2 separate regions of the Homo sapiens genome follow, and region 2 is linked to region 1. The links come from fine-mapping of genetic effects on gene expression. A gene starts in region 1. The other region holds a variant in brackets. All regions are shown on one strand. Distances are from middle to middle. Region 1 holds the start of HTR2B (5-hydroxytryptamine receptor 2B). Region 2 has its middle 7.2 kb from the start of ARMC9.

Evidence for each region. PIP is the estimated chance that this variant, and not a neighbour inherited with it, causes the effect.
Region 2: its variant is the best candidate, but not a certain one, in a credible set for the expression of HTR2B in lung (TOPMed, PIP 0.81).

The regions. Positions count from the first base shown.
Region 1 is chr2:231,123,190-231,127,579 of GRCh38, reverse strand. HTR2B (5-hydroxytryptamine receptor 2B) reads left to right here and starts at 2,538. Exons shown (of 4, transcript NM_000867.5): 1 at 2,538-2,608; 2 at 3,450-4,167. The coding sequence starts at 3,816. The region is part of intron 16 of PSMD1 (proteasome 26S subunit, non-ATPase 1); the gene reads right to left.
Region 2 is chr2:231,189,188-231,193,577 of GRCh38, reverse strand. No RefSeq gene overlaps it. Among named protein-coding and RNA genes, the nearest start is that of ARMC9, 7.2 kb to the left of the region's middle. RefSeq lists an enhancer at 1,189-2,069. The variant G/A (reference allele first, on the strand shown) is at 2,608.

The DNA.
Region 1 (4,390 bases):
AGTTCGAGACCATCCTGGTCAACATGGCGAAACCCCGTCTCTGCTAAAAATACAAAAATTAGCCAGGCGTGGTGGCAGGCGCCTGTAATCCCAGCTACTTGGGAGGCTGAGACAGGAGAATTGCTTGAACCTGGGAGGCAGAGGTTGCAGTGAGCTGAGATTGTGCCACTGCACTCCAGCCTGGGTGACAGAGGAAGGCTCTGTCTCAAAAAACAAAACAAAAACAAACACAAAAAAAGGTACAAGTCTCTACTTTGAGTAGACCTACATGTTTATACATTTAAATTCTTGTTTTTTTTTTTTTTGTTGTTGTTGTTGCTGTTTCAGTTGACCCTATTTGCTATTATCAAAGTGCTTGTCCACCTTTTAACTTGTTACTCAAATCTGGAGTAGGCAGGGAAACATGTTTATTAAAATTGTCTCACATGAATTTATCACTCAACATTCTTTTGTACTATCTACATCTACCACCATGTACAAATGTTATTTTCACTAAAGAAGGGGGAGAGGCAAAGTTTTGTGTGTGTGTATACGTCTGTGCGTGTGTGTGCGTGTATGTGTGTAAAGAGTAAAAAGATATGGAGTGGGGACTTAGAGGCTACTTTCTACTTAAAGTGCTTAGGGTTTTAGAGCACAGGTTTAGTTATTTGCTGAGACTCAACTATCCTTTTATATAATTATTTATTTATTATTATTTTGCTTTTTTCTTGATTCTCAGCTATGCTTCCCATAACTTGAGATTGCCAAATAAGTAGCTGTTCTAACTAGTTACGTTCCTTAGACATTAAACAGACTTAAAAAAGCAAAAATAAAAAAAATCAGAGTACCAATCTTACTTTTTATAAGTTGAGGCAAAAAATGAGTGAATGTGAGTGAAAGGATTAATACAGGCAAAATACAACAATGACTGCATTTTTATAATATACTTAATATTTAAAAAATTTTATCTATAAACAAATCAATAAAGGCTTATTTCATACAAGTCTTTTCACTGGATATAAAATGGTGCTGCTATTTTCAATCTGACATTACTTGTTTTGCAGATCCCTACCTGCCTTCATAAGCACAGATGTCAAAGTGTAACTCACAACTAAGCAGTATTTAAAAATAATTTCTTTTCCTCTTTTTTTTTTAATCTTGGAGACAAGATCTCATTCTGTCACCCCAAGCTGGAGCGCAGTGGTGTGATCTCAGCTCACTGCAGCCTCGACCTCCCCCAGGTTCATGCAATCCTCCTGCCTCAGGTCTCCCCTGACCCCTAACCCTCAACCCCTCCGCCGCCGCCCAGTAGCTGGGACTACGGGTGTGAACCACCACCCTTGGCTAATTTATGTGGTTTTTTTTGTAGAGATGGGGTTTTGCCATGTTGCCCAAGCTGGTCTCTTCTAGACTCAAGCAATCCACCTGTCTTGGTCTACCAAAGTGCTGGAATTACAGGAATGAGCCACCGCACCTTGCCTTAAAATATTTTCATATTCCTGAATAGAAATTCTGGTACATTAAAAAACATCTGATTTCTCTTGAATATTATTTCATCTAGAATTCTTCACAAGTATTTTTTCTAATATAGTAAATTTTGAGTTTTTAAAAAAGCAGCAAATACTGAATAAAATCTGAAGTGCTCAGCAGAGCTAAAATGAACTAAGTATTTTCCAATAACATTCAACATGAGCAAAGGAATACAAATTTGAAACAAGAAAAGGGCACAAATGTCATCACTGATTTATAAGTAATTAATTTTAAAATATGCATCTATAATGATCTTTTAAAAGGAAACCTTGAGAATGCTGAGGTTCTAATACTAAGCTAGTCTTATGGTTACAGAAAACTTAAATAGCATAACTATTAAGATTTAAACACCAATTTTCTGAAATAAGGCAAAAACGTATTTTCATTACTTGTATTTTCTCCAACGTAAAGTCTATGGGGAAAAAAAGCTGTGAACCACTCCTAAACCCAGAGATCATCTGTTTAAAAATAAGCAGTAAAAAAGTTTCTGCTAAAACCTATGTATACATGTAGAATTCAGGCCTTTCTGTGCTCTTCTATATAAGGTTGCAACCAGAGCAAATTAATGGTGTTCCACAGCAAAGGCACAAAAGCTAGATAAGAATCTTGTTTCACTGCTAGAAATCAGAACTGTAGAAATCACTATAGGCTTTTAAAACGGCAGAATCTTCAAAGAATGAAACCTCTAAAATAGCTAGATTATATCTTATTTTTTCTCAAATGTGAAAAACAGCTCAGGCTTAACCCCAAACAAAACTATCTGAAGCTAAAATGATCAAGTTTATTACAGTCCCCCCAAATATTAAAGAGAGCTCTTAAAAATATAACTTGAATAAGGGCCATGAACTGGTTCAACATGCTTAACAGTGGTTTTATGAATTACAATGAATGCTGCTACTCTCTAAAAATGAATGTATCAAAGAGGAAATAACCTCCTTGGCATGCTTGCAGCTATACAACGTATTTGTTTCACTGCTTTCAACCGCCTGTGCTGGAGGCTCAGAATAAGTCAATGGGAGGAGGATTTCAGTCACAGCAGCAAGCAAGTCTAGTGAACAGATAAGATGACATGCTCAGCAAAATAACAACGAAACCAGAGGTAAGCATTTAATAAACACATATGGAATTAATCTAAAGGTTTTTTTTTTTAATCTTCAAGAATTCTGCTATCATAATCTTTCATTTCTATTCAGCGGTTTAAAAATCAAAATGAAAAATTTACTAATGCTAAAGGAGAGTTTTTAAAAACGTGATTTGTACATTTGATGAACAAATAAATGGTCTAATCTTCCTTTTGGTTTCCCTTTCTTCTCAAGGCAACTGGGAAGGTTAAAAAAATAAACACTACTTAAAACAAAAAAAGAACTGGTTTGAATTTGGCAAATTTAGTGATTAAATTTAGAACACAATTGTTGCAAAGACATACCATGAGAGATGAAATTACTAAACACAATTATTTGGATCCTAGTAATACCTTTTTTTTTCCTTCTCTCAAACTAAAGGAAATCTAAAATGACATTTATATCAGTACTCACAAACCTGATAAGACAAAGCTAATTACATATAAGGATCCCTAGCTGGTAAAACATTTATTTAGACCCTTGTTGGGCTTTGAGTGTTTCTAGGTGGGTGGCCAGCGCATACTAAAAGTTCTATTCTGAACTATTGTGTTTCGACTTTTCTATTCTTCTGTAAGTAAAGGTAAAAAGACATTCAAGGGTCAGGAAACACCTAACTTTTTATTATAACCATTGAAAAAATTAATGTGTCTTCTGTTTCATTAACTGAGCAACATCAGAAATACAGTATATTTGGAGAATTGGCTGCATTGTCACAAATGCACAACAGACTTACTAAGAAGGGAAGGGCTATGAAGTTCAAGTGTTTTTACCACTTTCAGAAATGAATAAAATAATGCAGTCTATGTATTTTGTATCTAGGGGGAACTCTCTGGCATGCAAGTTCAAACACGACTCTACAACTACGGCAGAAAAAGAGAGAGAGAGAAACTAAAAATATATATATATCCTATTTTTTTCACAGCTATCAGTTTCTTTCACTGAGCTTTCCTAAATTTAAGCCTCTAGAAAATAATAAATACTTGGATATCTTACCTACAAACATGGACAGATGTGTGTATGCGCTCATTTTAGAGAACTTGAATTTTTTTTTTTAAAGGAAGGTGTCAACTTTGGCTTTTGAGTGTTTGGCATGGTTACAATGCCTTAAAAAAACAGATGAGCAGCTTAGCTACTAACCATGCTGACCACTGTTCGGAACGGGATTGAATCACAGAAAAACAGCAAATGGCTCTCTCTTACAGAGTGTCTGAACTTCAAAGCACAATTCCTGAGCACATTTTGCAGAGCACCTTTGTTCACGTTATCTCTTCTAACTGGTCTGGATTACAGACAGAATCAATACCAGAGGAAATGAAACAGATTGTTGAGGAACAGGGAAATAAACTGCACTGGGCAGCTCTTCTGATACTCATGGTGATAATACCCACAATTGGTGGAAATACCCTTGTTATTCTGGCTGTTTCACTGGAGAAGAAGCTGCAGTATGCTACTAATTACTTTCTAATGTCCTTGGCGGTGGCTGATTTGCTGGTTGGATTGTTTGTGATGCCAATTGCCCTCTTGACAATAATGTTTGGTAAGTATTTCACTTTGTTTGTGCCATCAAACCACAGAACTATGATATACTATTAGAGAATGGACACTCATTTAATCTTTACTTTTCTTGAAATAAAAGATGAACTTGGACTATTTAAAGATACGGCAAGTAAACAGTCCCTTGTTTTATATCATTCTCTATGGTTGATCAGCAGTTTTAAAGAGCAAAAAATATTTTTTGTAAACTATTTTTCTCCCTCCTA
Region 2 (4,390 bases), 66 kb before region 1:
TTAAAAATAATTAAACTACTATAATTCCTTAGTTATAATTTAAGACTTTCTTTGAATCCTGAACACTTGTGTAAGCATAATGCCAGTATTTAGGTGGAAAATCTCTGACTCAATCTCAGTCTGTTTAACTTATTCGATGTGTTCTCGTGGGAGTACAAAGGATACTTTTGTCACAAGAGGCAAAACTGCTTAGTTCTGAAGCTTCCTCCAGGCAGTCTCTAGGTTGGCTCTGCTGTGTATATTCCATGAGTTCATAGCAATACACTGAACCAGCTGCCTCAGCTTCCCCACTCTTAGGACCTGCCAAAGCATCCCATTTGCCCCAAATGTTCTTGTTTGACCACTCCAGTTTTCCCAAAATGGGATACATACTGCCAATGGGCCCAAGATGACTTTCTAAATTGTTTAATTATGAAAATTTCAAACATATGCAAAACCAGAGGATGGTTTAGTGAATCGCCATACACCCATCTCTCAGATTCTAGAATTATAATGACACTGGTGCTGGGAAAAACTTAACCTCAAATTAAATCCTTGGAATATGCTGAACACTTTAGCCAATATCTTCAGCCTTGCATAGGACATCGAAGGGACTGGTGGAGCTCTAGATTCTGGTGGGGGACACAGCTGATTCTTCTGCAGCCTAGAGCCCTCTGTGGGCCCTAGCCCTGAGTACTTTAGGGGCAGGAGGGTCACACTCCTCTGTGGCCTGCTACACACAGTTCATGAATGAAGTCATCTTTGCAGGCAAAGCAGGCATCTTTCTGGCTGCTGTCTTTGTTGGAAGGCAAAGAGCTGAGACCACAAGCAAAGAGGGAGAGTTGGTAAATGTTACTTTCCTGAGTTGCATAAAAGGGTGAAGCCACCTAAATTAAGCACACTGAGCCTGACCCACCCAGGCAGACCAGCGGCCAGCTAGACTAAACGCAGTTGCCTCATCCGGGAGCTCCTGCAGGGGGAGTTCAGACCAAGAGCATGTTTCTGGGCAGGCCCAGCGCCTGGATCTAATCAGTGGGATGGAGGAGGAACATACTGAAATGCCCGGCGTAAATCAAGAGATGAATTACAAGATGCTGCTTAAGCGAACATTTCCTTCCAGGAAAGTTGGATCTTGGTCGCTGCTCAAAACTCATGATGTGTGGGGTATGCAGGTCCATTCATCTTCCCAGCCCGGAGTCCATGTAGGGGTGGAGGAACAATTGTCTCCCAAAGGCTGCTTCTCCTCCCACTCCCCTTCCCAAAGCTGTTTATATCTGGAAGCTGAAGATTTCTTGGAAGGAGAGCACACCGGGTGGAAATATTCATCTCCCAAAAGAGCTCTCGGTGGGCGGTAAAGCAGGCGACCCCTGAAAGTCACTGAGCAGCCACTGTGGCCTCTAGTGTGTGTCCTTCCTCCCCTGTCCCAAGGATGTGAGCCGCATCACTGCCCCAATCGTTCTGTGGCCTGGAGGAGGTTGGCAGAAAAACTCAGGCCTCAAAATGAACATCTGGAAGAGCAAGCCTGGATTCCCAGGTGGTTTCCAAGCAGGCACACTTGGAGAGATTGCTAGGGCTTTCATCAGTGGTGTTCATAGACATACTCACTTAAGACTTTTCATGACGACTGTCACTTTCTTTTTTATTTTTTATTTTTTTTGAGATGGAGTCTGGCTCTGTCGCCCAGGCTAGAGTGCAGTGGCGCGATCTCGGCTCACTGCAAGCTCTGCCTCCCGGGTTCACGCCATTCTCCTGCCTCAGCCTCCCGAGTAGCTGGGACTACAGGCACACGCTGCCGTGCCGGCTAATTTTTTGTGTTTTTTCGTAGAGACGGGGTTTCACCATGTTAGCCAGGATGGTCTCGATCTCCTGACCTCGTGATCCGCCCGCCTCAGCCTCCCAAAGTACTGGGATTACAGGCATGAGCCACTGCGCCCGGCCGAGGACTGTCACTTTCTAAGCAAGTTTAAAAAAGCACATCACAGGGCACAGGATGTTAGCCCAGAGGGTGGCATGTTGGTTTAAGCTGGAGGAATAGATGCTAAAGTGACCACATTTGGGTAGTTTCCTGGCAGGTCAACACACCTGGGTGACCAGCAAGATGTGGCACACAGAGAACATCTTTTTTTTTTTTTTTTTTGAGATGGAGTTTCACTCTTGTCACCCAGGCTGGAGTGCAATGGTACAATCTCAGCTCACTGCAACCTCCGCCTCTCGGGGTCAAGAGATTCTCCTGCCTCAGCCTCCTGAGTAGCTGGGATTATAGGCACGTGCCACCACACCCAGCTAATTTTTGTATTTTTAGCAGAGAAGGGTTTTGACCATGTTGATCAGGCTGGTCTCGAACTCCTGACCTCGTGATCTGCCTGACTCTGTCTCAAAGAAAAAAAAAAAGAAAAGAAACGCAAATCTTCTGGCTCAGCAGTCTGGGTGCCTCTGCTGGAACTCAAGGGTCCTAGGCAGGGCCCCTGCAGCATCTGCGGCCAAGAAAGCCGAGCTGCGGGCCCACTGGGTACCCCAGCCAACTCCAAGGAGAGACCCGCGGCCAGTGCAGGCGGGGCAGCCCCCCCAGGGCCCTGCTCCGCGGAGGATAAATGTCTCAGCGGGAGCATCCGGCCGGCGGAGCAGCCC[G/A]GGAAGCGGCCCAGACGCAGCCAGACTGGCGTGGGGGCCAGTTCCCGATCTGGGTCCCGGCGGGGGGAGCGAGCCCGTCCCGCGGCCTCCAGCCAAGAGAAGCGAGCGAGGGGCTGCAGGGATTTTTACCCAGTGGCCTGACACTTAACGAAGGGTGGGTCACTGCAGTGATCTCCGGCGTGGGAAGGATTGGGGTTGGCTGCGGCGGGAGACTCAGGTAGAGTCTTGGGGAACAGCCAGCACAGCCCGACCTGGCCCCAGGTGCACCCCCACCTCCCTTAGGCCGTCATTTCCAGCAACACAGCGCCATCTCTGCCAGCCCAGCGGTCAGGACGGCGAGAGGCGCCCAGAAAACATACGCCCTGCAATGGAGAGTCAGTCCCCACCCGGGCGTCCTGGGTTCCCTGTTTTCCTCCCATCACCGACCCCCAAGCCGCCCCCTCTCAACACGCCCCGGCTTAGCCCCCAGCCCCTGACTGTGGAGCTGCCCTGGCCGGCCGGCAGCCCTGGCCCACCCGGGTCCCTTACTGCACGTTCTCTCTGGTCCGGCCCCTGGCCCTTTCCCTCCCTGCCTGAACTCCTTACAAAGGACAGATCAGAGCTGTCCGGTGTCTTAGGAAAGAAGAGATCCTTCACATTCAGTGATAGGAACTTGTCTCGAAACAGCTTAAGCCAAAAGGGCTTTCTTTGGCTCACATCCCTGAGAAGTCAGGGGTGGAGCTGGCCCCGCTGGGCAGGGCTGGAAGTAGGACTTTACAGTGCCCTCGGTCTTTGGGCTTCCGTCCCGCTCTCTCCCTCTCCGCTCCGCTTTCAGCCCTGTGTGGGACTGGGACTGCATGTCCGCTCTGCCTGGGTAACCTTGGGTCTGCTGAGAACCAGAGAGGAGCCACCAAGGCCTTCCAGGGTCTTCCCTGGAGGCTGGGAGCCTAGTCCTTACCCTGGCATGGCTGCACCCTCTTGACTTTCTAAAATGCCTCTGAGTGTATTGGATAAAGGATCCTTTTTGACTCGAGCTCTTCACACTGATCACTTGCAAGGCAGAGTCTGCACTCTTACAGGCTCCCTGGCAGAGCCAGCCTCCATCCCAGGCCTCCCTTCCTGCCCACGAAGCAGAGTTCTAAGCAGGAGGAAAGAACAAGTGGCTGAATCTCAGCTCCGGGGGCCCCCTCCTCCCTCCCTCCCTCCCTCTGTGAGCAGGGGCTCAGCCGTGTCCTCCTATTTCTCCAGGTCCTGGAAAGGGGCCCCGGGATCCTGGGGGAGGTGCTGAAGGAGGCAGTTGTGCTGAAGTTATGTGCAGTGTGGCGGCAGCTTGTCCAGGCTCAGACACTTCTAGTAAATGGAGTTAAGTCACCCACTCCCCTAGGTATTTGCGGCCCCTGCTTTGAATCAAGGCGTAGAAGCTATCCAGAAAAAGGTGACATGAGCCCTGCCCACCCTTTAGATTTAAGCAAACCCTATCTGAGGACTGGGGCTGTCCTGACAGAGGTTGGCCTGCAAGGGTCTGGGTGCATCTGGAGGCTGACACCTTGGGCACAGACCCAAGGGGCAGCATCATCAAATGGAGAGAGCTGAGGCTCAGAGAGCTGCTCCCTGGCCCGTCAGTGCCCAGCCGTCAGGATGAACGCATCGAGACAGTGCTCCCCATGTTGCGGGCGAAGACCTGGCAGCTGTCTTCCAGTCCCATAACTACAGGGGTGCAGCGGGTCCCAGCTCCCAGGAGGCGCACCAGAGTCCCATTTGGGAGCCAAAAATCTCTGGGATTCATCCTACTAGAGGCAAGAGA